3 linked regions of the Homo sapiens genome follow. The protein of the gene in region 1 purifies or fractionates together with the protein of each later gene. This does not show direct contact. Each region holds a gene or a part of one and is shown on either strand. Other genes may lie near its edges. The genes, in order: CDA, MPP2 and MTMR9.

Region 1 (3,600 bases):
AAGTGCTGGGATTACAGGCATGAGCCACCGCACCCAGCCAGCTCACACATTTTAAGCCAGGGATCATAAAACCCACCTTTCAGGATGACTGTGAACAGAACCAGATTCAGCTGGTATGCTGGTATGCCTGGCACGACACGGCATGGCAGGCAGCATTCACTCTGATCGGTTGGTGCCTGCGCTGAGTATGTAGAATTTCACCCCTGGTTGTGAGGCTTTAAATGAGTAAATGCTTATAAAGCATTCAGCGCATTTTCTGCCTCGTAATAAGAAGGTCACAAATGATAGCTGCTTCTGCTACCACTATTAATGCTATCATTATTCTTATTATCTGGAGGCAGATTGTGGAGGACTTTTGGAGGCCAAACAGAGACACTAAGATTTGAAGAGGTAGGAAGTAGGGAGCCAAGGAATGTTATTAAGAAGAAGAGTAACATAAAAGTGGTGTGTGATGACATTTAGTGTGACAGGTGCTCAGCAAGGGCGGGGACAGAGGAACAGTGTCAGGGTACAGTATCTGCTCCACTCACTGACCTGTCTGCAGTGTCAGCACACTTCCTGGCCTATCACTGGGCCTCTGTAAGGTTTGTTGAACACATGAATGAAAGGCTTCTACTAGGACTGGGACAGGTAGAATGAAGAGAAAGGAATGATCCGAGAGATATTGTGTGGGACACATGGACCGGGCCTGGCATGGGCAGTGTTACAAATAAAGGCTGGGTGCGGTGGCTCATGCCAGTAATCCCAGTGCTTTGGGAGGATGAGGCTGGAGGATCCCTTGAGTCCAGGAGTTCGAGACCAGCCTGGACAACATGGCAAGACGTCGTGTCTACAAAAAGTACAAAAATGAGCTGGATGTGGTGGCGTGCATCTGTGGTCCCAGACACTTGGGAAGCTGAGATGGAGGGATCACTTGAGCCCCAGGAGTTCGAGGCTGCAGTGAGCTGTAATCACACCACTGTACATCAGCTGGGCGACAGAATGAGACCCTGTCTCAAAAAATAAAAAACAAAATAAGAAATAAAGTAAAGGCACATGGCTTTAGGATCGCCAGCCAGGTGGCCCAGGTGAATGATGATGAGGCACTGACTGAGGTGAGGCATTGAAGGCATGGCTGGACTGTGTGCTGGGGACGTGCTGGGCAGGGACCAGCAGCAGTATTCGAAGCTACAATGGAGTGAGCTCACTAAGGACTTCATTTAGATGACCTCCTGTAATATCACAGCCACCTCATGATGGGGGACAATGAGTTTCACATGCACTAATCAGAGTACTTCCTATGGTCAACGTCAGAAAGCAACCAGAACCAGAGCGGGCAAGGGTAGTGCTTGTCTCAGGGTAGCTGGATCCAGGAACACAAACATCACCACATCCTTCTTTATCCTTCTGGGTGCAGGTCTCTTTCTCTTGTCCTGCAGGTGGGCTTTTTCTGGGCATCAGGGAACATGAGTGCAAGCAGTCTCTGGTTTCCATTCTTTTGTTTTTGTTTTTGTTTTAAAGGCAGGGTCTCTCTGCTGCCCATGCTGGAAGTACAGTGGCGCGAGCCTAGTTCACTGCAGTCTCAAACCCCTGAGTTCAAGCTATCCTCCTGTCTTAGCCTCCCAAGTAGCTGGGACTACAGGTATGTACCACCATGCCCAGCTAATCTTTTTTATTTTTATAGCGATGAGGTCTTGCTACGTTGCCCAGGTTGGTCTCGAACTCCTGACCTCAAATGATCCTCCCACCTTGGCCTCACACAGTACTGGGATTACAGGCATGAGCCACTGCACCTGGCCTGTTTATCATTCACACATTACTGAAGTAGGAAGTGAGGCCAGGTGCAGAATAGGGGGTGGATGCAGTAAGTTGGGGCTTGGAGCAGGGGGCACCTGGACACCCAGAGGAAGCCTGGTGTGGTTTCATGGGGTGAAGCAGAGCTGATCAGGAGGCAGAAACGGCACAGCTGAGTTTAGACACTGTGAGTTTACAGCTTATGGCAGAACAGGTCTGCCCAGGTCTGTGACTTTCTCCAGCTAAACACAAGACCGGCACAGGTGAAGGCTTCCCCCTCCAAGGCAGCTGGTGTCCCATCCAATTCAAAAGCAGGCCTGGCTGCAAAGACGGCCTTGCTATCGAGACTTCATAATGATCATCATTTTCTCTCTGTTACTCCCAACCCTGGCCAGGGCCTTGTGCCCCTCACAGATGGGCCACCCAGGATGGTGATTAACAACTACAGCAATTAGGTTTTCATGATGCACCTCGGGCTGGTAACATTCGTGACTGCTTGTGGGGAGAGCCGAGGGAGAGGTACAGAAAGAGGAGCTCACTGGTGAGGAAAGAGCTGCTAAGGGAAAAAAAAAAGTGAGGACACAAAGAGGAGAGTGGAGATGGCACAGAAGGAGGATTGAGAAAGCAAAGAAAATGGGCCAGGCGCGGTGGCTCATGACTGTAATCCCGGTGCTTTTGGAGGCCGAGCTGGGCGGATCACCTGAGATCAGGAGTTCGAGACCAGCCTGGCCAACATGGTAAAACCCCATCTCTACTAAAAATACAAAAAATTAGCCAGGTATGGTGGTAGGTGCCTGTAATCCCAGCTATTCAGGAGGCTGAAGCAGGAGAATCGCTTGAACCTGGGAGGTGGAGGTTGCAGTGAGCCGAGATCACACCACTGCACTCCAGCCTGGGCGACAGAGCGAGACGCCATCTCAAAAAAAAAAAAAAGAAAGAAAGATAAAAGAAAAGAAAGAAAGCAAAGAAAATGGTCCACGGAAACGGAGTCAGCTCCGGGCCTTGCACATGGCTGAGGCTCAGCCGGTGTTCGTGCAGCGCCGGGTGGGTGATGGGCAGGGAAGAGAAGGACCACCTGTAACCCTAGGGGCACTGCACGAGGTGTCCCTGGGCTCGTGGGGAGTATGCATCTGGCGATGAGACCACGACAGTGCCAGAAAGGGTCCCAGGATGGTGCCCAGACACAAGACTTCTTGGCTGTAGTTTCTGCCAACTCTGCTGGCACAACCCAAGGGATGGGAGGGTTTATCTTCTTCAGCTCATGACCTTAGGACAGTGGTCTCTCTCCCTCTTTCCTCCTCCTTTCCTCTCCGTCTGCCATTTAGGGAAAAAGCCACTTTACTCAACCAGCTGGGGTGAATTCTGAGAGGAACACACCACATTTTAGAAGACACTTGAGGATGTCTTGGTTAAGTAACCACTGAATCCAGCCTACCTTGGCTTAATTCTTAAATCTGAGTCTTCCATTTTCCCTCAAACCACCCCCTGCTGTTCTGATTCTGTCCCTGGTCTCCCTTTCTCTGCCTGGATGCATTTTCCTAGAAGCATTTCTTGGTGCCTGACACCAGCCCCTCTCTTCAGCAGCTGATGGACCCCAGGCCCCATCCCCCCAACACCACAGCATCTCTGGTCTAGGTAAGAGCAAGCTTCTCTAACCTGGGTCTTCAGCTTACAGCCCAGCTCCCATCACGCCCCGTTTCCCGCTGTTTCCCCCTGCCAAGGAACTTCAGTTAGTCCTCTCCACTGTCACTCAAAAGTGGCTCATTTTGTGACCAGCCTAGGCAACAGGGTGAAACCCCATCTCTACAAAAAATACAGAAATTAGCC
Region 2 (3,827 bases), on another chromosome or scaffold:
CTTTCTGGCTCGTCCTGAAGGGGAGGCTCTTCCTATTCCCTTCCCCATTGCTTTGCCCTTGTATCTGCTCATCCTCCTCTCTCCCCTCTCCAGGAGAGACGTTTCAGAGCCCTTGCCTCCTTCACCATGCCGGTTGCCGCCACCAACTCTGAAACTGGTAAGAAGGGGGTGAGGATGTTAGCTTATTTCAGTGGTTCAGAGGGTGCCAGGCGAGGACTTAGGGGTGGGCACTTGCACAGCTCCAGATAAGAACCAACTGGCTCCACTGCTGTCCACCCTACCACTCAGCCATTCCTTCTGGCAGCTGCTGTGGCCATCTCCTCTGTGTGGGTTCCTGTGCTGGAACGGAGAAGAGAAAGAATAAGACCCATACCTGCTCCAGTGTAGGGCTGGAGCACAACTCACCTCCGTGGAGGGCAGGGGATGCATGCTCCAGAGGTGACCCGTACTATTGCTGGAGGGCAGTGGCATAGGACCAGGCCTTCAGGAGGTGGCCCCGGAGCTGGGCCTTGGAGAATGGCTTGGGGGTGGAGGGATTACAGCAGCACAGCCTGGGGCTGAGAAGTCCATAATCGCTGCCCACTAGGCCAGCATGTGCCAGAGGTGGACAGGGGGTACTGGGGACCAGGAAGCTGTGAGTGAAGGAACAAGAATACCAGGTTAGGATACCTGGACGTGGCTCTGTAGGAGGCATTAGGACAAGGGAGTGGGCCACTCAGACAAACTAGCAAAGCCTCAGTGGCAAACTGCTTAACCTCTTGGAGCTCGCATTTCTTCTTCTGTAAAGAGGCTGCTGTGAGACGCAAAGGCTGTAATGGGAGAGCACATTACTTTTAGGAATAGTCATAATTATTATGCTGCTGTTGCTGCCGCTGCCACCAAGTTGTTGTTGTTGTTTTTGAGACAAGTTCTGGCTCTTTAGCCTAGGCTGGAGTGCAGTGGCGCAAGCTTGGCTCACTGCAACCTCTGCCTACCAGCCTCAAGTCATTCTCCCACCTCAGCCTCCCAAGTAGCTGGGACTACAGGTGTGCACCACCATGCCCAGCTAATTTTTGTATTTTTCGTAAAGACAAAAATGTTGCCCATGCTGGTCTCAAACTCCTGAGCTCAAGTACTCCACCCGCCTCGACCTCCCAAACTACTGGGATTACAGGTGTGAACCACTGTGCCTGGCCTGAGTTGTTATTTTGGCATTAACCCTGTGTCCTTGAAACAGTCACCTCCTTTTGAAGACCTGAGATTTCCCTAAGATGAGATGATGGGACAAGATCAGTGTTCTTAACTTTTTTCTTTTTCTTTTTTTTTTTTTTTGAGATGGAGTCTCCCTCTGTTGCCCAGGCTGGAGGGCAGTGGTGGGATCTCGGCTCACTGCAACCTTCACCTCCCAGGTTCAAGTGATTCTCCTGCCTCAGCCTCCCAAGTAGCTGGGATTACAGGCACCTGCTATCATGCCCAGCTAATTTTTGTATTTTTGTAGAGACTGGGTTTCACCATGTTGGCCAGGCTGTCCTGACCTCAGGTGATCCACCTGCCTTGGCCTCCCAAAGTGCTGGGATTACAGGCATGAGCCACCACACCTGGCCTGTTCTTAATTTTATTGGTCCTGAGTCACTTAGAATCTGGTGACAGCAGTGAGCCCTCATCGTAGACATATACATCCATGCACAAAAGGTATATTCTACTCTAGGGGATCATGGATTCCCGTAGTGCACGCAGGACCCCAGAAGGTTAAGTTCCCTGTGCTAGAGGCCCTCTGAGGCCCGGGCAGCTGGGAACTGCTATGGTTCTGCTCTGAGTTGTCTGAACTTCCCCCTGCCTGGATGCCTCCCTCCCATGCAGCTCCTTCCCTTGCTCTAGGCCCCACTACTGCCTCTGCCAGAGGTTCCAGGGCTGCCACTTTGGGTAGAATGATTCCTCTGTGCCTCCTCTCCGAGAAAGTGAAGGGAGTGAGCCAGGGCCTAAACTGTGGTACACTTGTCCAGGAAAGGCCTCTTCTCCTTGCAGTGGAGGGATGGCACCAATGTCCCCAGCTTCTGCAGCATCAGAGGGCTCAGTCCCCCATCTCCTGTCCAGCCTGCTGGGCTCCCTGGGGTCTCCCTGCCTCTTTCAGCCTGCCTAGGCCCCACTGTAAGCTGCTTAGGCATTAATTAAACCCACCCCTGAGCCTGTGCTTAATGGCCTCTCCAGCCGGGACTGCCCAGTAAACCCACCAATAGTGCCTGACTGGGGCGTAGGAGGAGGAGCAAGCCCAGCAATTTGGCTTCGTTGTTGCAGACCACTTGATGGGGGCGTGGTGGGGGAGGATGGGGGACAGGGAGTGGAGCCTTGGGGTGTGGCGGTGGGTTCTGCTTCCTCAAAGGACTCCTGGGGCTCCTGCTCCCCTTCATGTTGTTCGAGGGGCTGCTCCTGGCTTCTCATATTCAAAGGAAGAAGTACAAAGTGTTTTTCTTCCTTCAGGCAGCCTCTGTCCTATCCTGAGCTACATTAGCTCCCAGCTTCAAAAATCTAATGGTGGATTCTGCCCCTTATTATCTGGTGGTCATTATACTTCCCACAGGATAGAGAGACAGCTGTGTCCCTGCCTCTGAGTTCAGGCTCCCCTTCCCTCCTCCTCCCCTGGGAGATCCCTGCCTTGGACTCTGCAAAGGGCAAAGCTAATAAGATCCTTTTTCCGCCCTTCCCCATGGGTCAGTATGGTTGAAGGGAGGGAAAGGGTATGGGTGTATTCCTCTTGCAGGGAGACCCCATATCTACTTTGGGTAGAGTCAGGGGCCCTTTTCCTGAGACTTGGGAGATAAATGGACAGTGGCACTGGGCTGAGAACTTAGAGATCCTGAACCTGGCATCTCCTGACCTGCAGCCTTGCTCCCTCTTCCCCTGTCACCAGATTCCCTCCCTTTTTTGGATCAAGGCTGGGATATGTGGCTGCTTTCAGGTGGAGCTGTCCCTTTAAATCTCTCCTCCATCCCTGGGTTACTGTCCTGGTGTGTAATTCTACTGTCATGGCAACCAGGGGTGCAATGCGACCTGGTGCCACTCCTCAGGGAATGTCTGAGTGGAGGCTGCAGTACCCTGATGGTGGCCTCTTGGGCACAAGATCTCAGAGGAATGGGGTCACCGGAGCGGAGCTGAGTCCTTCCCTTCTGCCCACACTTTTCCCTGTGTGCAAATGTGCCCTCATTTTTCCTTTCTGGGGAACTGAGTTCCAAGATGCCTGACTTGCTTCCTGGGCATCATCCCCTTCATTAAGAGGAAGAACTCATGGGAGATGGGGGAGGGGAAGAAGCTGCTGTGAGGCGAGGGGTAAGCAGGGCTGGGGCACCATCCCTACCCACAGCGATGCCACCTCCCCCACGTACCCTGCCTCCCAGTGGCTGACCAAGGGTGGGTAGGGGGAGGCGTCTGAGGCTTGAGGTATTTGCCCCATGCCCAAGTGAGGCTGCCTCCCGGTGGAGGGCTGAGTCGTTCTTGGGGACTTCCTTAGACTGAGGGACTATTGTAAAGGAAACAGGGCCTGGAGAGGGGACTGAGAGCAGAGGTCAGAGGGCATAGGGAGGAGGTGGCATGGGGTGTATTAGAGGAGGGGCTTCTAGAAAAGAGGGTACAGGGACAAGATGGGCCAAGACTTTTCTCCCTCGGGTCTCCTGAAGCTGGCTGTGAGGGGAGGGTCTCGGAGTACCGCGCCAGTCTTGAAGGGGCAGCATGCCTACCCCCTCCTCAAAACTTCCTGTTAGCCGCCTCCTCCCCATCCCCACCGACACTGACATGCTGGGGATCGGGCAATCTGTGGGACTAGGGCTCCCTCCCACCACTCTTCTCCCACCCGG
Region 3 (3,827 bases), on another chromosome or scaffold:
TACTTTATGTCAGAATAAATATGCTATAAACTATTAAGGTATTCTCCATTCATTTATTCAATGTTTCTAGTCAGTTACTTATAGAACAGTGGGCCAAGAAAAATATGTTTTAAAAACATAAGAGCTCCACAAAACTCCTATGATTCACATCAATTGTCAGATTCAGTTCTATTTTATCATTTTGTCCTTATTGTCCCATCCATGCCCTGTATACATCCCTATCACAGCATTTAAAATACTTTATTAAACTTTCTAGTTTATATGTTTATTTCTTATAATGGTCTTAGTTTTTTCAGGTAGAAGGCATGTTTGATTAATTTCTATATCCTCAGCTCCTAGTACAGCACCTAGCATATACACCATCTTAAAGTTCCACTAAGGGACTTAAAGGAAGATCTGAATAAATAATGTAACATTGTTCATGGATGTCAAGATGTCAATTTGACTCCAATTAATCTATAAATCCAAAACAATTCATTTTTTTAAAATCCTATGAAAATTGTATAAAGTCTGTGGTCTAGTTAATAGTACTGCACCAATGTCAATGTCCTAATTTTGTCCTCATTTTGATTACACTACAGTTATAAAACAGGTCAACATTAGGGGAAGCTGAGTGGACGATTCTAAAACCTCTATGTGCAATTTTTGCAACTGCCTTTGAGTCTTCAATTATTATTAAAGACTTTTAAAAATCCCATGAACATAGCAAGTTTTCCAAAATTGCATGGAAACATAAAGGTCGAAACATAGTTGTCAACTTTAAAAAAAAAAAAAAAAAACGAAAGCGGGGCAACTAGCACTATCCGATTTTTGGACACATCACAAAGCCACAGAAGGAAAGAGAATATGATGATGACAAAAGAGCAGATTAATGAACCAATGGATTATGACAGAGAGCTCAGAAACAGACCCGTATATATAGGATAACTTGACATAAACCAGCCAAGGTTGGGTTGTCACGTGATGGGATTAAGAAAACTGGCTTGCTCTATGGAGAAAAATAGGTTCTTATCACACTTGAAACAAAGATAGAATCCAAATTAAAGACCTAAAAATGAACAGTAAAACTATGAAGCTATTATGGAAGAAAATGTAGGAGAACATCCTGGTGATTTGGGGACAGGGAAGGAGTTCTTAAGACAAGCCACACACCATAAAGCAAAACATTGGCAAGTTCTGCATTAAAAGTAAAGATTTCTGTTCAACAAAGGGCACCACAGAAAAAAACAACAGATGGGTGACACACTAGAAAACATTCGTAATGCCTAAATGGAGAATGAACACCCACAGAGTATACAAGGTACCCATGCAAATCAACATGAGAAGGACAATAAACCCAATGTTTAAAAGTAGACCACAGAAATTAGGCAATTCACAAAAAGGAAAAAAAAAAATTTTAAGTATACTGCTCACAAGCATATACAAAGATAATTAAACACTAATAATTAATGAAATTCAAATTAAAACAAAGCAATAACTATTTCACAATCTTCAGACTGGAAAAATTAGAAAGACAATACCAAATGTTGGTAAGAAAGTGGAGACGAGGTACCCTCTCCTGCACCATCATGGGAAGGCAATGTGCAATTGTCATCCTGGAAAGCAATTAGTTTGTGAAATGAGATACGCACCTACTTTATGGCGCCATCCCATCCTAGGGGCAGTCTCAGAGCAATTATGGCACAAGACTATATAAAGGGACATGAATGAGTATGTTTACCAGAGTTGTTTGTGATAGCAGGGAGTTGGAAGTTACCTAAAAGGTCTGTTAAGGAAGCTCTTTTAGATACTTTGGAATCCTATGCTGTCAGAAGCAGTGAAATGGTTGTACACACAGCAATATGAAGAGATCTTGAAACAGTATTGTGTCACCATATTAAGAAGCAGAACAAGATCTACAACATAATCCCAGTTAGGCAAATTAAACTCACACATGCATGTGTGCGCACACCCATACACAATAGTGCTATCTATTTTATAGCAACAACTAACGTGGTTGCCTACAGGGATTGTGGATGAGGCAGGAAACGGGAGTGAAAATTAGGGAGGAAGAAAATCAACAACAGAGGAAACCTTTTAAGGAATCAATCATGAAAATGATGAGTCATCAACTGAGTAGTAGTAACTCAATTTTCTGAGGTCCATTAAAAAAAAAACCAGGTATAACTGTAAAACTTGTATACAACCTTGCATGTTGAAAGGATCAAATAAAATGATGTAAGCGATATATATGAAAGTATTCCACAGACTTGTGAAGCATTATTTAAACTTAAGTTTCTACGAGGTTAAGTAGTTTGCCCAAAGGCACTTGTCTAGTAAGAGGCAGAACTGAAGGAGTTACCCTTAATGACTTTCTCACCTCATTTACAATTCACCAGCAAGGCAAGGCAGCTCCACTTTCAAAAACACATCCCAAATCAGATTCCTTGTGACTACACTACTGTTTTTTGTTTGTTTGTTTGTTTGTTTTGAGACAGAGACTCACTCTGTCACCCCAGGGTGGAGTTCAGTGGTGCAATCTCAGTTTACTGCAACCTCGGCCTCCCAGGGTGAAGTGATTCTCCTGCCTCAGCCTCCTGAGTAGCTGGGATCAGAGACATGCACCACCAAACCCAGCTATTTTTTGTATTTTCAGTAGAGATGAGGTTTCACCATACTGGCCAGGCTGTGTCGAACTCCTGACCTCAGGTGATCTGCCCGCCTCGGCCTCCCAGAGTGCTGGGATTACAGGCGTGAGCCACCGTGCCCGGCCTACCATCATCTTTTATGTGAACTACTCTACTCTCCAAGCTGGGCCTGCTGCTTCCAGTCTTGCCCCCCTACAGTTTATTTTCTGCCAGCAGCCAGAATTGTCTTCTGAAACATCTATCAGCTGCTGCTTCCTAGCTTTCACCTCTCCAAGGGCTCCCATGAAAACCATTACTGTGGCCTGCAGGCCCTCCACGGTCTGACCACTGCTTATCCCTCCAGCCAGTCTCTACCATCAACTTCCTGTACTCTCTGTTCCCTGCCCTGCAGCCACACTGGCCTCTTCGCTCTTCTCTGCACATGCCAAGCATGTTCCCCATCTCAAGTCTTTGTATTCGCTGTTCCCTCTGGCTGCAATGCTCTTCCCCCAGACACTCACAGTTCTAGCTTCCTCATTTCATTCCGGTCTGTAGTCAGATGTCACCTGCCTTCTCTGAAATCCTTTCTAAGGAAACTGCCTCCCAGTGCTCTTTATCCTCTCATCTTCCGTTACTTTCCTTCCTGGCCCTTATTACCTGACATCATTATATATATATTATATATATATAAATATATTATATATTTATGTATATATATTATATATACATATTATAATATATATTATATGCTATATTATACTATATTATAATATATAATTATTATAATATAATTATTATTATTATATATTATAATTATTAATATATTATATATAATAATTACATGTATTAGGTGAATAGGTGAATAAATAATTATTCACCTATTCGCTGAATAATTAGGTGAATATTTAGGTGAATAATTATTTAATATAATTAGGTGAATAATTATATATATTATATAGGTGAAATATAATATATATTATATAATACGTATTATATAATATATATTATATATCATACGTATTATATACTATGTATTATATGTAATATATATTATATAATACATATATAATACATAGTATATAATACGTATGATATATAACACATATTATATAATATATAATACATATTATGTTATATATAATACGTATTATATATGTTATATATTATAATATAATATATAACATATATAATAAAATATATAATGTTATATATTATATATTA

Evidence for each region.
Region 2: the proteins of CDA (region 1) and MPP2 purify together in Homo sapiens (affinity purification with mass spectrometry; 3 studies listed by BioGRID and IntAct, with this or other methods). This does not show direct contact.
Region 3: the proteins of CDA (region 1) and MTMR9 purify together in Homo sapiens (co-immunoprecipitation; 3 studies listed by BioGRID and IntAct, with this or other methods). This does not show direct contact.

Annotation. Positions count from the first base shown.
Region 1 is NC_000001.11:20,592,097-20,595,696, forward strand, and holds part of CDA (cytidine deaminase), read left to right. Parts: intron 1-3,600. UniProt on the Homo sapiens protein: This enzyme scavenges exogenous and endogenous cytidine and 2'-deoxycytidine for UMP synthesis.
Region 2 is NC_000017.11:43,900,760-43,904,586, reverse strand, and holds part of MPP2 (MAGUK p55 subfamily member 2), read left to right. Parts: intron 1-93; coding exon of another isoform or gene 94-126; coding exon 127-157; intron 158-3,022; exon of another isoform or gene 3,023-3,303; intron 3,304-3,827. UniProt on the Homo sapiens protein: Postsynaptic MAGUK scaffold protein that links CADM1 cell adhesion molecules to core components of the postsynaptic density. In CA1 pyramidal neurons, required for synaptic KCNN2-containing channel function and long-term potentiation expression.
Region 3 is NC_000008.11:11,287,816-11,291,642, reverse strand, and holds part of MTMR9 (myotubularin-related protein 9), read right to left. Parts: intron 1-3,827. UniProt on the Homo sapiens protein: Acts as an adapter for myotubularin-related phosphatases. Increases lipid phosphatase MTMR6 catalytic activity, specifically towards phosphatidylinositol 3,5-bisphosphate and MTMR6 binding affinity for phosphorylated phosphatidylinositols.